Regions from separate parts of the Homo sapiens genome. Here region 1 is linked to region 2. The links come from fine-mapping of genetic effects on plasma protein levels. A gene starts in region 2. The other region holds a variant in brackets. All regions are shown on one strand. Distances are between the middles of the regions.

The links. A credible set is the group of variants that fine-mapping cannot tell apart. PIP is the posterior inclusion probability: the model's chance that the variant is causal. Protein levels are from antibody-based Olink assays in UK Biobank. Linkage for the fine-mapping came from a reference panel and not from the study's own genotypes, which makes the PIPs less certain.
Region 1: its variant is the best candidate, but not a certain one, in a credible set for the plasma level of the ADA protein (UK Biobank, PIP 0.78).

The regions. Positions count from the first base shown.
Region 1 is chr20:44,669,704-44,675,067 of GRCh38, reverse strand. It overlaps LINC01260 (long intergenic non-protein coding RNA 1260), which reads left to right and starts at 3,329. Exons shown (of 5, transcript NR_034104.1): 1 at 3,329-3,429. RefSeq lists enhancers at 3,589-4,088, 4,089-4,590. The variant C/T (reference allele first, on the strand shown) is at 3,042.
Region 2 is chr20:44,648,595-44,653,958 of GRCh38, reverse strand. ADA (adenosine deaminase) reads left to right here and starts at 2,260. Exons shown (of 12, transcript NM_000022.4): 1 at 2,260-2,384. The coding sequence starts at 2,352. RefSeq lists a silencer at 2,062-2,451 and enhancers at 1,488-2,471, 2,702-2,811.

The sequences.
Region 1 (5,364 bases), 21 kb before region 2:
GTGTATGACTCCAGTTTCCTTTGGAAGTAAAGCGGCCTTGAGAAGAGTTTTTATTAAAGAGGCAATAATGATGGAGGACCCTTGCGTAGTGAGGAAACCTCTTTCAGCCCATTTAACACCATGGTGGTGCAGGATATGGAAGGCATATTTAGAGTCAGTATAAATATTGATGCGTAGTGCGTAGTTCCTTTGCAAGAGTGAGGGCTCGAGTTAAGGCAATGAGTTCAGCTTGCTGAGAGGTAGTGGAGGTGGGCAGAGTGGTAGCCTCAATGATAGATGTGGAAGATACTATAGCATAGCCTGCCTTTGCTGGTGTGTGGCGATTAGGCCTAGTGGAACTGCCATCAATATACCAGGTGTGATCAGGGTGAGGAACAGGAAAGAAGGAAATGTGGGGAAATAGAGTGAATGTCAGGTGTATCATAGAGATACAGTCATGGGGGTCACGTGTGGTATCAGGAATAATGTGGGAGGCTGGATTGAAGTCCGGGCCAGGAACAATGGTAACTGTGGGAGACTCAACAAAGAGTGAGTACAGCTGAAGGAGCCGGGGAGCAGACAGTATATGTGTCAGGTGTGAGGAAGAAAATAGATTTTGGAAGTTATAAGAACTGTAGAGAGTGAGTTGAGCATAGTTTGTGATTTTGAGGGCCTCCAAAAGTATTAGGGCAGCAGCGGCCACCGCATGGAGACATGATAGCCAGCCTAAAACAGTAAGGTCAAGTTGTTTGGACAAAAAGCCTATAGGGTGCGGTCCCAGTCCTTGTGTACGAATTCCAACTGCACAGCCCTACACTTCGGCTGCGTGTAATGAAAAGGGTTGAGATGAGCCAGGGAGAGCTAGTGTGGGAGCAGTCTCTAAAACTGTCTTCAAGGAACAGAAAGAGGAGTGGGGAAAGGATTGAGAATCTATGGAGTCAGCTAGGTTTCCTTTTGTGAGTTTATACAATGGTTTTGTTAGGATGGCAAAACCAGGTATCCAAAGACAAAAGTATCCAACCACGCCCAGGAAGTAAAGGAGTTGTTGTTTTGTAGAAGGGCCTGGGGTTTGAGAGATCAGTCGGACACGATCCGCAGGGAGAGCGCATGTGTTGTTATGAAGAATTATGCTGAGGTAGGTAATGGATGGAGAAGAAATTTGAGCTTTGGACAGGGATACCCAATATCCCTTGGAGAATAAATGTTGAAGGAGCAGGAGGGTGTCTTGTTGAGAAGATTCAAAGGAGGGGCTACAAAGTAGAAGGTCATCAATATATTGAATAAGGCAAGAAGCAGAGGGGTGGAAAGAAAGTAAATCATAAGAAAGAGCTTGGCTGAAGTAATGAGGGCTGGCCCTGAAGCCTTGCGGCAGTACAGCCCAGGTAAGCTGCTGGGACTGATGGGTGTCAGGATCGGTCCAGGTAAAAGCAAAGAGAGGCTGGGACAAGGGGTGTAGGAGAATAGTGAAAAAAAGCATTTTAAAGATCAAGAATGGAATAGTGAGTTGTGGAGGAAGATATTGAGGACAAAAGAGCGTACGGGTTGGGCACCACAGGGTGGATAGGCAAAACAATTTGGTTGATAAGGCACAGATCCTGAACTAACCTGTAAGACTTGTCCGGTTTTTGAACAGGTAAAATGGGAGAATTGTAAGGAGAGTTTATAGGTTTTAGAAGCCCATGCTGTAGCAGGCAAGTGATAACAGGATTTAATCCCCTTAAAGCCTGTTGTGGGATGTGATACTGGCATTGAGTGGGGTAAGCGTGATTAGGTTTTAATGGGATAGTAATGGGCATGTGATTGGTTGCCAGGGAGGGAGTGGAGGTGTCCCATATTTGTGGGTTAAGGTCGGGGGATATGAGAGGAAGACCCAAAGGAGGCTTTGGGTTGGGAAGAAGGGGGCAATGAGATGTGGCTGTAGTACAGGAATAATCAGGGAAGCAGATAATTTGGTTAAAATGTCTCAGCCTAATAAGGAAGCTGGGCAGGTGGGGATAACTGAAAAAGAGTGCATAAAAGAACGTTGTCCAAGTTGGCACCAGAGTGGGGGAGTTTTAAGGGGTTTTGAAGCTTGGCCATCAATACCCACAACAGTTATGGGGGCGAGGGAAACAGGCCCTTGAAAAGAAGATAATGTGGAGTGGGTAGCCCCCATATCGATTAAACGGGATGGACTTACCCTCCACTTTAAGAGTTACCCGAAGCTCAGCGTCTGTGATGGTCCAGGAGGCTTCTGAGGCGATCGGGCTACGTCAGTCTTCAGCTGCTAAGCCGAGGAGATCTGGGAAGGAGTCGGCCAAGGAACATAGGGTTTGGGCTCCAGGGGCTTTAGGAGTGGCAGTGATGTGAGTCGGACAGTCCGACCTCCAGCGGGGGCCCGCACAGACAGGGCACGGCTTAGGAGGAATCCCGGGCTGCGGGCATTCTGAGGCCCAGTGGCCAGGCTTTTAGCATTTGAAGCAAGGTCCACGAGGATGTTTTGAAGGAGCCCCTGGGAGCTGTGGCTTGGATGTTCTGAAGTTCTTGTATGCTGGAGACGTGGTTGTGGGCTGTCTTACAGCGGAGGCGAGCAGCTGTAACTCAGAAATGCGTTGCTGCCTGGCTACCTCCTCTGTATTATTGTACACTTTGAAGGGGAGGTTGATTAATTCGTGTTGTGGGGTTTGAGGGCCGGATTCCAATTTTTAAAGCTTTTTTCTAATGTCAGGAGCTGGGTGATAAAATGCATATTAAGAATAAGGCGGCCTTCTGGCCCCTCTGGGTCTAGGGCGGTAAAGTGTGTAAGGGTTGCTGCCGAGCGGGCCATGAACTGAGCTGGGTTTTCGTCTTTACCTTGGGTAGTTTCTCTAAGTTTGTCATAATTAACAGCTTTGTAAGCTGCCTTTTTAAGCCCTTCAACTAGGCAGGAAACCATGTAATCTCGCCTAGCCATACCTGGGGAATCTGCCTGATAGTTCCATTGGGGGTCCTCTCGGGGAACTGCTCTACTGCCTTCCTGGAGGTCAGGTTCATGAAGCCGGCGGTTATCAGCGTGAGATTGGGCTAGAGAAAAAACTCTTTCC[C/T]GTTCATCTGGGGAGAGGGTAGAAGTCAGGATGACATTTCAGTCACTCCAGGTTAAACTGTAGGACAGAGTTAGATATCGGGATTCCTGTATATATTTAGTGGGGTCTGATGAGAAAGAGCCTAAATGCTGGCTGATTTGGGAAAGGTCTGATAGAGAAAAAGGCACATGTACCCTGACTATGCCTTCAGCTCCAGCCACCTCTCTAAGAGGAAATTGTTGGGCAGGTGGGGGAGAGCTAGCCGCAGAACGAAACTGAAAACCAGACTGGGTGTGGGGAGGGCGGGTAATAGAAGGGTTATAGGATGTGGGAGCAGAGGCTGAAGAAGAGTTGGAGGCTGATTCAGCCTGGTGGGGAGCGAGCTGAGGAGGAGCAGTCTGGGAAGAAGGTGAGACGTCAGATGGTTCAGTAGAAAAGGAAGATTCACAAGACTCAGCGACGCTTGGGGTTGGGACTGAAGGGACAGGTGGGAGGGAAAGAAGGAGGATTTGGGACGAGTCGCATTGGGAACAGAGACTAGGGAGGGAACGAAGTGTGAAAAATGCCTGGACGTAAGACACCTCAGACCATTTGCCCATTTTTCAACAAAAATTATCTAGGTCTTGTAGGACGGAGAAATGAAAAGTGCCATTTTCTGGCCATTTAGAACCATTGTTAGTTTGTATTGGGGCCAAGTGGTGTTGCAGAAGAAAATAAGATGCTTAGATTTTAGGTCAGGTGAGAGTTGAAGAGGTTTTAAGTTCTTGAGAACATAGGCTAAGGGAGAAGAAGGAGGAATGGAGGGTGGAAGTTTGCCCATAGTGAAGGAGGCAAGTTTAAAGAGAAGGGTAGAGATATGGAGAAGGGGGTGGGGAGCAGCCCTGGGCTGCAATGTGGGTGAGCAGCCAAAGCAGGCGTCCCCGCAATTGACTTGCCACCAAGGGAATGTGGGTGAATGACCAAAGCAGGCGTCCCTGCGGTGATCGGACACCAATGGAATGTGGGTGAATAATCAGGCAGGCGTCCCCGCAGTGATTAAATGGCAAGGGAAGACTGTCTTCCTGAGTCTGTGACCGGCCCTGGAGTTTTGGGTTCACGGATAAAATGTGTCTCCTTTGTCTCTACTGGAGAGGAAAAAGAACTGGAATTGGAAGGACAGAGAGATTGAAGGGTAGCAAGAGAGGCTGGAGAAGAGAGTGAAAAGACCACTTACCCAATTTGAAATTGGTGAGATGTTCCTTGGGCTGGTTGATCTGAGGACCCGAGGTCGTAAGTGGATCTCTTCACGGAGTGAGGGTGAGGACAGGGGACTGGTCTCCCGAAGGAGTCCCTCTGACCCGGGTCTTCAGCACCAAATGTCACACGCATCTGTGTGAAGAGACCACCAAACAGGCTTTGTGTGAGCAACAAGGCTGTTTATTTCACCTGGATGCAGGCGGGCTGAGTCCGAAAAGAGAGTCAGCAAAGGGTGGTGGGATTATCATTAGTTCTTACAGGTTTTGGGATAGGCAGTGGAGTTAGGAGCAATGTTTTGTGGGCAGCGGGTGGATCTCACAAAGTACATTCTCAAGGGTGGGGAGAATTACAAAGAACTTTCTTAAGGGTGGGGGAGATTACAAAGAACTTTCTTAAGTGGGGGGAGATTATAAAGTACATTGATCAGTTAGGGTGGGGCAGAAACAAATCACAATGGTGAAAGGTCATCAGTTAAGGCTATTTTCACTTCTTTTGTGGATCTTCAGTTGCTTCAGGCCATCTGGATGTATACATGCAGGTCACAGGGGATATGACGGCTTAGCTTGGGCTCAGAGGCCTGACACAAAAGACCTGAAAAAGACAACTTGAGACCAACAGAATGTCTCTCCCTCTCCCCCGTTTCTTTTCTCCTTTTTTTTTTTTTTAGCAGCAGTTTACTCAAAAGGTAAACAAAAAAATCTTTTGCTATCTCTTATTAATACTATATGAGGCAGGGTGCGGTGGCTCCCGCTTGCAATCCCAGCACTTTGGAAGGCCAAGGCAGGCGGATCACCCTGAGATCAGGAGTTCAAGACTAGCCTGGTTAACATGGCAAAACCTTTTCTCTACTCAAAATACAAAAATTAGCCTGGCATGGAGGCGCATGCCAATAATCCCAGCCACTCAGGAGGCTGAGGCAGGAGAATCACTTGAATCCAGGAGGTGGAGGTCACAGTGAGCCGAGATCACGCCACTGCACTCCAGCCTAGGTGACAGAACGAGACTCCATCTCAAAAAAAAAAAAAAAAAAGAACAAAAAAAAAACTATGTGACTATCTAGTTCAAAATAGAAAAATGATTCTACTTTTGCATCAATGCATTATAAATA
Region 2 (5,364 bases):
TCAGTAGCATGAAAATAATGGACTAATACAGCCACCCTCTCCCTCACTCCCACATACAACCAAACCCCAAATCCAGCTGATTTTACACCCTAAATGCAGCTTGAATATGAGTTTCTCCACTTCCCCCACTGACATCACTATGCCCTACCCAGACCATGGCAGTTGCCTCCTTCCTGGTATCCTGTCCTCCCTCACCCCCGCTGGCCCCCTGTAATGCCCTCCCCTCACAGCAGGGAGCCCAGGCTTCTCAAAGTGCCCTGTGGGTGCGAACCACCTGGGGGTCCTGTTTGTATAAAATACAGATTCTACTTCAGTAGGTCTGGGATGGGGTCTGAAAGTCTGCATTTGTAGTCAGCTCCCAGGTGATGTGGGTGCTGATGATCCCTGGATCACACTTTCAGTAGCTGGAGAATATTTTTTCCAAATAAAAGGGTGATTTTGTCTCGCCTCCACTTAAAACACTCCACTGACTTCCTAGGAATCCCACACCATCGCTGGGTCCCACATCCCTGGCAGGATTCAGCTCCCATCAGACCTTCTAGCCCCTTGCTCTCCACTCTCCCACTCTCTCTTTCCCCCTTGTTTATGGGTTTGTTAATTTATTTATGATGAAATGAAATGAAGCTACCATCCACCCCAGTACTGGAACATTATCAATAACCTGTGTGTGGCCAGGCGTGGTGGCTCATGCCTGTAATCACGCCTTGGGAAGCCGAGGTGGGTGGATCATGTGAGGTCAGGTGTTCGAGACCAGCCTGGCCAACATGGTGAAACCCCGTCTCTACTACAAATCCAAAACTTAGCAGGGCACGGTGCCACGCGCCTGTAATCCCAGCTACTCGGGACGCTGAGGCCGAGAACTGCTTAAAATCCAGGAGGTGGAGGTTGCAGTGAGCCGAGATTTCGCCACTGCACTCCAGCCTGGGCGACAGAGCAAGAGTCCATCTCAAAAAAACAAAAACAAAAACAAAAAAACAAAAAACAAAAATTAGCCAGGCGTGGTTGTGGGCGCCTATAATCCCAGCTACTCGGGAGGCTGAGACAGGAAAATCGCTTGAAACGCTGGGGGTGCGGGGGAGCGGTGGGGAGGAGGCGGGCCAGAGGGGCAGAGGTTGCAGTGAGCCCAGATCGCGCCACTTCACTGCAGCCTCCGCGAAAGAGCGAAACTCCGTCTCAGTAAATAAATAAATAAATAAATAAATAAATAAATAAATAAATAAATAACCTGTACCCGCGTGTTATTTCCCTCCGTCCTTACCTCCTCCCGGCTCCTTCCCTTTCACCTGAGATAACCACTCTTCTCGTATCTATGCTCATCTTTCCCTTGCTTTACATTTTTTCCACCGATGCATGTGTCTAAACATACATACTTTTGGTTTTGCTTTTACACATTCTAAAAGTTGCACCATTGTATGCAGTTTTCCGCAACTTAGTTTTTTTCACTCAACATTGTTTCTGAGACATTGTTTCTGTTGTTGTCTGGCTGAAGTTCATTCCGTTTCACTGCTGTCTAACGTTTCATGGTGTGAATATTCCGGTTTATTTGCCCACTCGCCCGTGGAGGGGCATTTGAGGGTGTTTCCAATGTTCCTGTTATTCGGAATAGCGCTGGTGTGAACATTCTGCACAGGTCTCTGGCTGCGCCTGGGCGGGTTTCTTAAAGGTGAATGCCCAGGAGGGGACTGTCTGTGTTCTCCCTCCCTCCGAGCTCCAGCCTTCCTCGCCTCCTTTCACTCCCAGCTCCCTGGAGTCTCTCACGTAGAATGTCCTCTCCACCCCCACCCACCCCTGATGAACTCCTGCAGGTTCTGCAGGCCACGGCTGGCCCCCCTCGAAAGTTCCTTAACTATACAATTATGGTGTGTGTTTCTGCGACGAGCGTCCGTCTATCCGGTGGAAGGCACGCCGCTCGAGGCTTGCGATGCTCCCGGGGTCCCCGCTTCTAGCTTGGGCCTGGCGCACAGCAGCGCCCAGACTGCAGGGGGACGCTTGAAAGTTGCTGGAGGAGCCGGGGGGAAGGCAGCGCCCAGCGAGGCGGCTGGAGCGCGCGCCCACAGGTGGGTCCGGTCGGGCGCCGCGGGGCCGTAGTTTTCGGGTCGGCGGGCGAGGACGCCGGGTCCAGAATTCCAGGAAATGCGCGATCCAGGCCGGCGGGCGGGGCGGGGGCTCCGGCGAGAGGGCGGGCCCCGGGAACGGCGGCGGGCGGGGCGGGAGGCGGGGCCCGGCCCGTTAAGAAGAGCGTGGCCGGCCGCGGCCACCGCTGGCCCCAGGGAAAGCCGAGCGGCCACCGAGCCGGCAGAGACCCACCGAGCGGCGGCGGAGGGAGCAGCGCCGGGGCGCACGAGGGCACCATGGCCCAGACGCCCGCCTTCGACAAGCCCAAAGTGAGCGCGCGCGGGGGCTCCGGGGACGGGGGTCCGGCGCCTGGGCGGCCCGAGGGGCTTAGCGGGGCCCAGCCCGGGGCGTCCAAACCCTGGGAACGAACGGGGGCTCCTGCAGGCGAGTTCTTCCTTCGGCTTAGGCCGTGGCTTGCTTGCGGGCTAATCAGGGACAATGGGGCAGAGAAGGTCCAGAACCCGGAGGCCTCCAGAGTCTGCTTCTGCCCCTGACTTGACCCCTCTGGGTCTCAGTTTCGCTGTCTGTCAAGTGGGCATCCTAGCACCGCTGAGCGCTGTGTGGGCCTGGGCAGGGACTTGAGGTCTCTGAAGCTCAGCTGTATGATCAGGCCCGATGTCTACGCCGGATAGGCACCTAGTGCTGTGCCCGGCGCCTACTGAGTGCTCAGTGAATGGAAGCAGCTTTGTACGCCAGCGTTATGGTGGTGAGCGCCAAGGAGCTCAGGTTTGTGGATGCGCCCCGGGGAAGAACCGTGAGCCCTGCCAGAAAGGGGAGGGAGGGGAGCAGAGCACCCCCCTTCCCCCGCGCGGGAAGAACAGGAGCTAGGTAGGCCCTGGGTTTGGGGCCCTAGCAGGGTTCACTCGAGGCCAAGCCATGGCCACTGGCCCCAGGGGAGAATCCCCTTGTTTCTCCGCCCACCAGCTGTGGCGTCTTGGGACTGTTGGGGTCAGGGAGGGTCTGGACCCCCTTGGCCTGTCGCAGAGTCCGAGAGGAGGGGCCCAGGAGTCTGCCAAGCAGGGTGAGTCAGCCAGTAGGGTGTGAGAGTGGTTGGGGAAGGAGTCAGCTGCAGTCAGCCTCAACTTACCCTTCTAAGAAATAGGTGTGAGTGGCCCAGGAGGTTGGCTCACGCCTGTAATCCCAGCACTTTGTGAGGCTGAGGCGGGAGGATCATTTGAGTCCAGGAGTTTGAGACTAGCCTGGACAACAAAACTAGACCCCGTCTCTCCAAAAAATAAAAAAAGTTAGGGGAAGTGTGTGTGGTGGTGCACTCCCGTAGTCCCAGCTACTCAGGAGGCTGAGGCGGGAGGATCGCTTGAGCCCAGGAGGTTGAGGCTGCAGTGAGGTGTGATGGTGCCACTGCACTTCAGCCTGGGAGACAGAGCGAGACCCTGTCTCAAAAAAAAGAGAAGAAAAAGAAAAGAAAAGAAATAGGTGTGAATGATGATGACAGCTATCACAAAAGTGCCGGTGAGAATCCAGTGAGTGTGCATGTGTCAGTGAGGGAGACAGGCTGTGGAGAGCCCACCTACCTTCTGAGGAGGGTGAGGCCTGGCCCCCACTACTGATGCCCCCAGCCCAGGGAAAATGCTCAGCTACTCCCCGTCAGAAGCTGGAAGCACTGAGGTGCTGTACAAGCCCTCCTACCCCCACCCCTGCCTCCTTCACGTCTTACTGGAGCTGGGGCCCATGATTGGCGCCTCCCCTTTGCAGTCTTTTTATTAAATGCTCTGGGCTCCCTCTGCCCTTGGGCTGGGGACCCACTGTACCCTGATGTGAATCCTATGGCAATAGCAAAGCTCTTTGATTGGCGGGGTGCAGTGGCTCACGCCTATAATCCCAGCACTTTGGGAGGCAAAGGTGGGTGGATCATGAGGCCAGGAGTTCGAGACCAGCCTGGCCAACATGGCAAAACCCCATTTCTACTAAAAATATAAAAAATTAGCTGGGCATGGTGGCGGGCGCCTGTAGTCCCAGCTACGCAGAAGGCTGAGGCAGGAGAATGGCATAAACCCAGGAGGTGGAGCTTGCAGTGAGCCGAGATCTCGCCATTGCACTCCAGCCTGGGTGACAGAGTGAGACGCTGTCTCAAAAAAAAAAAAAAAAAAAAAAAGGCTCCTTGATTGCGAACATGTTGGGAGTTATGGAGAGAACAGCAGGGCCCACTTCTAGAGCACTTGTTGCAGACACCCATTGGATCCTTGCAGTTCTTCTGTAACAGCCCATCAAGGGAGGGGCTCATATTATTATCCCCATTTTTTGGCCTTGCTCAGTCCTCCCATCTGATTCAAGCTGGCAGATCATTTTCCCTATTGGGACCTCAGTGTCCACACCTGGAGGATGGAACATCAGCTGCTTATGTGGGTGTCCCGTGTCCTGAGTCCCAAGGCCACAAGGTGATGCTTGAGAGTGAAGGTAGAATGTTACCTGCCATGTGTTTGAGGCGTGACAAATCTTGTATGATTGTGAGGAGGAACTTGTGTGAGCTGGCAGGAGAAGTGGGAAGGAGTGTGAATCTCAGAGCCACTGTGACCAGAGCCAGCTCCCTGCCCTCTTGTGGGAGGGACAGATGACAGTTATAATTATTAGCATTACTAGCTGCAGCTAATGGAGTGTTGATGTTTCTGTGCCAGGCACCGTTCTAAACACATTATCTGCATTTTTTATTTAATCCAGGCACAGAGAGGTTAACTAGGCCCAAGATCACACAGCTAGGAAATGTCCAATCTGGGGTTTGAGTCCAAGGGAGGCTGGCTTCGAAATCCCATGCCTCTAACCATCTTTCCTAAACTACCTCTGCAGAAGCCTTTGGGGATAGAGGTGCCAGTGCCCCAGGTGCAAACCTCCTGAGACAGGAGCCTTTGCTGTGTCCTTCAGCTTCTCATACCTGCCACCAGCTGAGGCCTGGGACCTGGTCAGCTAGAAGAAAGCAGAGCAGGGCAGCGCTTTTCAAACTGCACTCAAGTGGCCTGACTTTTAATGTTCACACTGTGATTCTGTGTGGGTCGGGTTGGGGCCTGCGATGCTGCACTGCTGACCAGCTCCCAGGAAATGCTAATGTCAACGATCCAGGAACACACTTTGCTTAGCAAGGCCCTAGGCAGCTGCCTTCTGTTGTGCGGGACCCCTATTGACTCCAATGGATATAGCACCAGGTTCAAGAGGCTACCTTCTTTGGAAGAGGTAGCAAACAAGATACGGGGTTTTACTGGGGGCTTAGACACAGGGAAGAGAGTCCAGTGGCGGCAG